Linked DNA regions of Homo sapiens: region 2 is linked to region 1. The links come from fine-mapping of genetic effects on gene expression. A gene starts in region 1. The other region holds a variant in brackets. All regions are shown on one strand. Distances are from middle to middle.

Region 1 (4,388 bases):
TGCTCACCACCTGGGTGACGGGACCAGTTGTACCCCCAACCTCAGCTGCATGCTGTATGTCCATGTAACAAACCTGCACATGTACCCCCTGTATCTAAAATAAAATTTCAAATTATTAAAAAAAAAAAATAGGGTCGGGTGCAGTGGCTCACGCCTGTAATCCCAGCACTTTGGGAGGCCGAGGCGGGCGGATCACGAGGTCAGGAAATCGAGACCATCCTGGCTAACACGGTGAAACCCCGTCTCTACTAAAAATACAAAAAATCAACCGGGCGTGGCAGCAGGCGCCTGTTTTCCCAGCTACTCAGGAGGCTGAGGCAGGAGAATGGCGTGAACCCGGGAGGTGGAGCTTGCAGTGAGCCGAGATCGCGCCACTGCACTCCAGCCTGGGCGACAGAGCGAGACTCCGTCTCAAAAAATAATAATAATAATAATAATGACAGTCCTACTTTTCCTTTGTAACAAAAATAAAAGTTACCTATAAGAGTTAAAGGTAAATAAAATTTGTAATTTTAATTAAGAAACACTAAGTAAACATACAACTTCCAAGAAGCCGGGTTCCCCACTACCTGGTTATAAGTAAGTCTACAAACCTAAATGAGCATTGTACAGCGCTTACTATAGTTCATAATTATTCTGTCATCAGGGACAAACATTGTAAAGACACTTTTTCCTCAAAGCCTTAGCATTCAATTTTTTTTTTTTTTTTTTTTTTTTTTTGAGACAGATTCTTGCCCTGTCGCCCAGGCTGGCGTGCAATGGCTCCATCTCGGCTCACTGCAACCTCCGCCTCCCGGGTTCAAGCGATTCTCCTGCCTCAGCCTCCCGAGTGGCTGGGATTACAGGCGTGTGCCACCACGCCTGGCTAATTTTTGTATTTTTAGTAGAGGCGGGGTTTCACCATGTTGGCCAGGCTGGTCTCAAACTCCTGACCTCAGGTGATCTGCCCGCCTCAGCCTCCCAAAGTGCTGGGATTACAGGCGTGAGTCACCGCGCCCAGGCAGCACTCCAACTTTTTATATGGATTGTTAACTGTACTGGTTCTTGAGAAGCCAGACTGAGCGCTTATACAATTAGTCCAAAGATCCCCAAACAACATTTAAAGGCTGTCTACAAATTCAAGCTAAAAGACTGTGTACAAATTCATTTGTGTGTCACAAAACATTTAATACTGAAAGAGATTCTTATTCAAATAGGCAGTGTGTAAATGTGGGGTCTGTTAACAGTTCAAATTGCAGATTCCTTTCCTTCTTTAAGTTTTCATTGCACCACCACGAACTAAACCATTTAACATACCTCAGAGGTCTCTGGGTACCTAGTCTCTCAGAGGCCTTTGGAGGCCCACGAAGGCTTATCTTAACTAAAATTGGCAGGGCTGGCTGATAAAGTTAACGGAACTCCCCATTTTGGAGGCAGACTTAGTAATGGTCAAACGAAGAAACTGTTGTGGTCTGTTCTTAAAAAGCTACTAGTATTTAGTGCTTCACAGAGGAAGTAAAGAAAGCAATAATCCGAGATGAGGAGGAGCAAATACAGGCGTGGCGGTAGTTCAGGACTGAGTCTACAAGGGCGGTTCTCAAGGGCGTCACAAAATCCTATGGAAGGCTTGGAGGACGGCACTCCTGGATCTGAGCCCTACGTCCCAAACACCTTCAATCGTATTGTGAGGAAGAAGACCTTTTACACACTCCCTGCTGCTGGCCCCCGGCCCCCTCGCCCCACCTCCGAGTGGTCACATCACACGGCGGGAGCCGCGGTCAGCAGCTGTGATCACACCCCCAGGACCGTGCTCTGCGGGCTGGGCTCGAAGCCTTGGGACGCGGCACTTCCTGGTTGGTACGGGATGCCGGTCCCATCGCCCCCACCAGCCCAGTCATGCCACCGCGCACCCGAACCAAGGGCGCCCGGATGACCTGGGGACACCACACACACTGCACCCGAAGCCCTGTGGCGGCGAGGCGGTGCATCCTGCAGAGGACGCCTGGGCTTCAGCCTGAGCCTGCGCGGCTCTGCGCTCCAGGCAGCCGCCCGCGCGGCAAAAGTGCGTGCCAGAGTTGTCAGCTTTCACCCTGCAGGAATTCCACCCGAAGGCGTGCGAGGGAGGCCCTTGGGGATCGCTAGGGAGTCCGCCGCCGACTCACTCGCTGAAATCCCGTCCAAGTTGGGCGGGGAGCGGCCAGCTGCCCAGGTTGGGCGGAGGAGGGACGGAGGGCGAGGGCAGTGGAAACCCGGCTCCCACGGGCGCCCGGTGATCCGGGTCTCGGCGCGGCTCCTACCTGCAGGGCGAAGGGGCCGCTAGCACCTGCGCGTTGGCGGCGGACTCTCAGGGCTCGGGTGCCTCTGGCACAGCTGGAGCTCAGCGGGAGGGAGGGAGAGAGGGCGGGCCGGAGGGGGCTCTGCGCTGCGCGGCCGGCAGGAACTCTCCGCCCGGATTCGCCCCGGATTCGCAGGGGTGGAGCGAGGCGGTGCCAGGTCCCGGGGCGTCGCGGTGCCGGCTGGAGGCCCCAGCGGGGCAGGTCTCGCGACTGGGCCTCTGATCGCCCGCGTTCCTTGTTCTCTTTTCCCAAAGTTTCATAACTCGACCGCATCACCCTAGGGAATGCTCGCTATTAGGACCATTATCAGGTCCTCTCGAGCCGCCAAGGACCAGCCACCTTTCCCGGAGCTTTGCCTATGATATCTATTCTTCGACTACTGCGGATAGTAGCCACAACTGGTCCAACTTATAAGTAAGGAATCAGCAAATCAAACGGCTAAATAACTTGCCTGAGGTGACATAATTAAGAGACTGGAGCTTTGCTGGAGTCTTTATAAGCCTTCTTGCACCTCCTTAGGGAAGTGTTATCGCCAATTTACAGGTAAGGAAATGAAGGCTCAGAACCAGCCCGAGGTCACACAGCTTAGATGGAGGGGGACGGGAATTTGTGTCCCGATGTCTCTAAAACTGGTTATAATTCAGAAATCTTAGCATAAAATAATAAATTGGGAGCAAAACAGGGAAAAGACCCATTCCACCTATGGAACCGTTCAAACACGGCAATTTTGCTGTTTTCAGTCCACTTAGAATAAAGTCTTAAGAAAAAGAGAACCAGTTGTCATGTGGCTTGAATAGCAGCCCTTTGGGAATGTAATTTTGAATATAGGCCAGTTCCAACCTCATTACACGATATTGCATCCCGCCAAAGCCAGGGGAAGCAATGGCCTCCCCATGCACCAAACTGCTAATAACGTCAGCCACTTTAAAGCATTTAGTGGATATTACACAACTGCGACTGACCAAGTTACATAATGTCTTACTGCACACATGGCATTGCATGAAATGAAAAATATAATATACCAGTCCAAATTAGGGGAGGGGGGCCAAATTATAGTCTGGAACTCAGTTTTCCTGTAACCTACAGTTGCTCAGCCCTCCTTAGACCACATTTTTGTCTCTTGAGCACATCTTTTCCTAATGATAGAAGAGTCACACAGCCCTCACTCTTTCCTTGTTGACATAAATGATTGATGTCTTTTGAATCCTATGATACTGACAGATTTTTACAATTAAACACATGACTCTCTGAGCAGAGTATTGCCTAAGAGGAGTTTAGTAAGTTTCAGACAAGCATGTTACTGGAAGGCAGAATACCCTCTCTCCTCCCCTCTTTCTCAAGCTTTATTAGTCACAGATGGTCTGATAAGTCTTGTGCACACACGTAACTGCATTCTTACAAGCTTGTCTTTAGAAATTATAATGCTTTTGGTTGAGAAGCAGCAGTCTATAAAATTGCATCCCAAATTCTTAAGTGTCACTATGAAAACATTTGGCACTTGCCTCCAACAATAGGTCTTTCTACTAAATCTAATTAGAAATAAAATTATCAAGGCCAAGCGCAGTGGCTCACACCTGTAATCCCAACACTTTGGGAGGCCGAAGCGCGTTGATTACCTGAGGTCAGGAGCTCAAGACCAGTCTGGGCCACATGGCGAAACCCCGGCTCTACTAAAAATACAAAAATTAGCCGGAGGTGGAGGCAGGTTCCTGTAATCGAAGCTATTCGGGAGGCTGAGGCAGGAGGATTATTTGAACCTGGGAGGAGGAGGTTGCTGTGAGTTGAGATTGCACCACTGCATTCCAGCCTGGTGACACAGCAAGACTCTGTCTCAAAAAAAAAAAAGAAAGAAAGAAAGAAAGAAAATTATCTAAGTGCCCTTACAATAACTGAATTTCTGCCTCCCTGGGATAGAGGAATAAAATAGGAAATGCCATATGTTGTTTAGAGATGAACTGAAGCTTATGGACTCCCAAACATGAATTTTAGAAGTAGTATGATTTTGTATGTAATTATTTTATTTTCCTGAGAGATTTTGTGATTTTTCTTTCCAACTCTTTCATATCTTCAAAG
Region 2 (4,388 bases), 110 kb after region 1:
CTCCTTTTCAGATTTAAGAGATCCCTAAAAGTATTCCCCCAAAAAGAAGGAAGAGGTTTTTAAAAATCCCTTCGCCTGCTTTTGTGGGGGAGATAACTAGAACAAATTTTCATTGCTTAATTATAAATAAACAGAAAACTCTCACATAGCTAGGGCTAGGTTTAGCTGTGACAGAAAACCCAAAATAATACTAACTTAACCAAGATGAAATTTAGTTCACTGTCATCTAAAAGAAGTTCAAAAGCAGGCAGTTGAGAGCTGCTACAGTGCTCAATAGTGTCAAGGACCTGGGATGCTTCTATTTTACTATTCTGCCATCCTTGGCACTTGGTTTCTACCTCACTGTGGAAGAAGGCTGCTTGAGCTATAGTCATTACATCTGAATTCCAGCTACAAGAAAATATGGCAAAAAGGCACTCCTCTTTCTATTTAAAGACACTCCTCAGAAGTTGTACATAGCATATCTATTTATATCCCTTTGGCTGAAACTTAGTTTTTGTTTGGTTTGGTTTTTGTTTTGAGGCAGAGTCTCGCTCTGTTGCCCAGGCTGGAGTGCAGTGGCATGATCTTGGCTCACTGCAACCTCTGCCTCCCGGGTTCAAGCTACTCTCCTGTCTCAGCCTCTTGAGTAGCTGGGATTACAGGCATGTACCACCATGCCCAGCTAGTTTTTGTATTTTTAGTAGAGACTGGGTTTCACCATGTTGGTCAGGCTGGTCTCGAATTCCTAACCTCAAGTGATCTGCCCACCTCAGCCTCCCAAAGTGTTGGGATTACAGGCGTGAGCCCCTGGAACTTAGTTTTATGAACACATCTAGCTACCAGGGAGGCTGGAACACACAGGGACAACTAGCAGATTCTGCCATAACCCCACAGGAGAATTTGTAGTGTAAAGGAAAGAAAACATAGCATGCAAAAGGTGGAGGAAGATCAGACTATAAAAACCTATCTACTTTAGAAACATAAATTTTTAAATGCATCTATATTGTGCTCTTAATTTTCAAAATGCATGTACACTCTGAAAAAAGTGATAAAAGATAAATTGATCAGTAACAGGCAGAGTTGAGAAAAGAATTAGCTAAGCTAGAAAGGGAAATCAGGTGACTAAAAGGAGAACCAGGTGACTAAAGAAAGAACATTTTCAAAATAACTATGCAATTGTGAGACTGCGTGCTGAACTGGAAGCAGTGGAGAACAGAATTAACAAGGCAGAAAACAGAATCATTAATATGGTTGACAAGCTTAATTAATTTTCCTGTAGTAAATAAGAAAAGGAAAACAAGGCTGGGCACAGTGGCTCATGCCTGTAGTCCCAGCACTTTGGGAGGCTGAGGCGCACAGATCACGAGGTCAGGAGTTCAAGACCAGCCTGGCCAACATGGTGAAACCCTGTCTCTACTGAAAATACAAAAATTAGCTGGGTGTGGTGGTGCGCATCTGTAATCCTAGCTACTCGGGAGGCTGAGGCAGGACAATCATTTGAACCCAGGAGGCAGAGGTTGCAGTGAGTCCAGATCGCACCACTGCACTCCAGCCTGGGCAACAAAGCAAGATTAGACTCCCTCTAAAAAAAAGAAAAAAGAAAAAGAAAAATGAAAGGGAAAACAAAACCCAAAGAAAGAAAATTAGTATATCAAAGAGATATCTTCACTCCCGATGTTTACTGCAGCACTATTCACAATCGCCAACATTTGAAAGCAACCTAAGTGTCCATCAACAGATGAAAGGATAAAGAAAATGTGGTACATATACATAATGGAGTACTATTCAGCTATAGAAAAGAATGAGATCAACTGAAAGAAGGAAAATGGTGAATAGGAGGCATGACTGGATTTCAGCTCCCATTCAGACGGACAGAGCAGCATGTGGGGACTTGCATTGTGAACTTTTGCTCCAGAACTATTGCATGAATATACCAGGAGAGCCGAGAGAATTGACAGACCTTCTGAAGGAAGCGGATTGCTCCTGTGTACCCAAATACTGTGCTGGTATCCATGGCAGAGAGACCTGAAGACAGTTCACATCACAGCACTCTGTGCAGACAACATCCAGTACCAGCTCAGAGCCTGGTAGCCCTGCTGGGTGACTAGATCCAGAAAAGAAGTAACAACCATTACAGCTCAGCTCTCAGGAAGCCACATCCCTAGGAAAAAGGGAAGACATTAAGGGAACACAATGTGGGACAATAGAATCTGAATAGCAGCCTTGAGCCCCAGATCTCCCCTCTGACATAGCCTACCCAAATTAGAAGGAATCAGAAAAATAATTCTGGTAATATGACAAAACAAGGTTCTTTAACAACCCCCCAAAAATCACACTAGCTCACCAGCAAGGGGTTCAAACCCAGAAAAAAT[C/T]CCTGATTTACCTAAAAAAAGAATTCTGAAGGTTGATTATAAAGCTAATCAAGGAGGCACCAGAGAAAGGTGAAGTCCAATTTAAGGAAATAAAAAAATGATACAAGAAATTAGGGGAGAAATCTTCAGTGAAATAGATAGCATAAATACAAAACAATCACAACTTTAGGAAATAGAGAACACCCTTAGAGAAATGCAAAATGTTCTGGAAAGTCTCAGCAATAGAATCAGACAAGCAGAAGAAAGAACTTCAGAACTCAAAGACAAGGTGTTTGAATTAACTCAATCCAACAAAGACAAAGAAAAAAGACTGAAATAAAATGAACAAAGTCTCCAGGAAGTTTGGGATTATGTTAAATGACCAAACCCAAAAATAACTGGCATTCCTGAGGAAGAAGAGAAATCTAAAAGTTTGGAAAACATATTTAGGGGAATATCAAGGAAAACTTCCCTGGCTTTGCTAGAGACCTAGACATCCAAATACAAAAAGCTCAAAGACCAAGATCGTGCCATTGCACTCCAGCCTGGGCAACAAGAGTGAAACACTGTCTTGGAAAAAAAAAAAAAAAAAAAAAAAAGCTCAAAGAACACCTGGGAAATTCATCACAAAAAGATCACCACCTAGGCATATTGTCATCAGGTTATCTAAAGTCAAGACAAAGAAAAGAATCTTAAGAGCTGTGAGGCAAAAGCACCAGGTAACCTATAAAGGAAAACCTATCAGATTAACAACAGATTTCTCAGTAGAAACCCTACAAGCTAGAAGGTATTGGGGCCCTATCTTCAGCCTCCTTAAACAAAATAATTATCAGCCAAGAATTTTGCATCCAGCAAAACTAAGCTTCATAAATGAAGGATAAATACAGTCTTTTGCAGACAAACAAATGCTGAGAGAAGTTGCCACTACCAAGCCAGCACTATAAGAACTGCTAAAAGAAGCTCTAAATCTGGAAACAAATCCTGGAAACACATCGAAATAGACTCTCTTTAAAGCACAAACCTCCCAGGACCTATAAAACAAACAAACAAACAAAACCCAAGGTATATAGACAACAAATAGCACAATGAATGGAATAGTAACTCACATCTCAATACTAACATTGAATGTAAGTGGCCTAAATGCTCCACTTAAAAGATACAGAATTGCAGAATGGATAAGAATTCACCAACCAAGTATCTGCTGCCTTCAAGGGACTCACCTATCACACATAAACTTAAGGTAAAGGGGTGGAAAAAGACATTCCATGCAAATGGACACCAAAAGCAAGCAGGAGCTATTCTTATATCAGACAAAACAAACTTTAAAGCAACAGCAGTTAAAAAAGACAAAGAGGGACATTATATAATGATAAAAGGCCTTGTCCAATAGGAAAGTATCACAATCCTAAACACATATGCACCTAACACTGGAGCTCCAAAATATATAAAACAATTACTACTAGACCTAGGAAATGAGATAGACAGCAACACAATAACAGTGGAAGACTTCAATATTCCACTGACAGCACTAGACAGGTTATCAAGAAGAAAGTCAACAAAGAAACAATGGATTTAAACTATACCCTGGAAAAAATGGACTTAACAGATATTTACAGAACATTCTACCCAAGAACCACAGAATATACATTCTGTTCATCAGTGCATGGAATTTTCTCCAGGATAGACCATATGATAGGCCATGAAACAAGTCTTAATAAATTTAAGAAAATTTAAATTATATCAAGTACTCTCTTAGACCACTGAGAGAGTGGAATAAAACTGGAAATCAACTCCAAAAGTAACCTTCAAAACAATACAAATACATGGAAATTAAATAACCTGCTCCTGAATGATTACTGGGTCAACAATGAAATCAAAATGAAAATTAAAAAACTATTCAAACTTAAATGATAATAGTGACACAACCTATCAAAACCTCTGGGATACAGCAAAGACAGTGCTAAGAGGAAAGTTCATAGCCTTAAATGCCTACATCATCAAAAAGTCTGAAAGAGCACAAACAGACAATCTAAGGTCACACCTCAAGGAACTAGA

What was found. PIP is the estimated chance that this variant, and not a neighbour inherited with it, causes the effect.
Region 2: its variant is the best candidate, but not a certain one, in a credible set for the expression of PLD1 in whole blood (TOPMed, PIP 0.53).

Annotation. Positions count from the first base shown.
Region 1 is chr3:171,808,123-171,812,510 of GRCh38, forward strand. PLD1 (phospholipase D1) reads right to left here and starts at 2,361. Exons shown (of 27, transcript NM_002662.5): 1 at 2,277-2,361.
Region 2 is chr3:171,918,497-171,922,884 of GRCh38, forward strand. The region is part of intron 2 of LOC105374218 (a long non-coding RNA gene); the gene reads left to right. Among named protein-coding and RNA genes, the nearest start is that of TMEM212-AS1, 20 kb to the left of the region's middle. The variant C/T (reference allele first, on the strand shown) is at 2,355.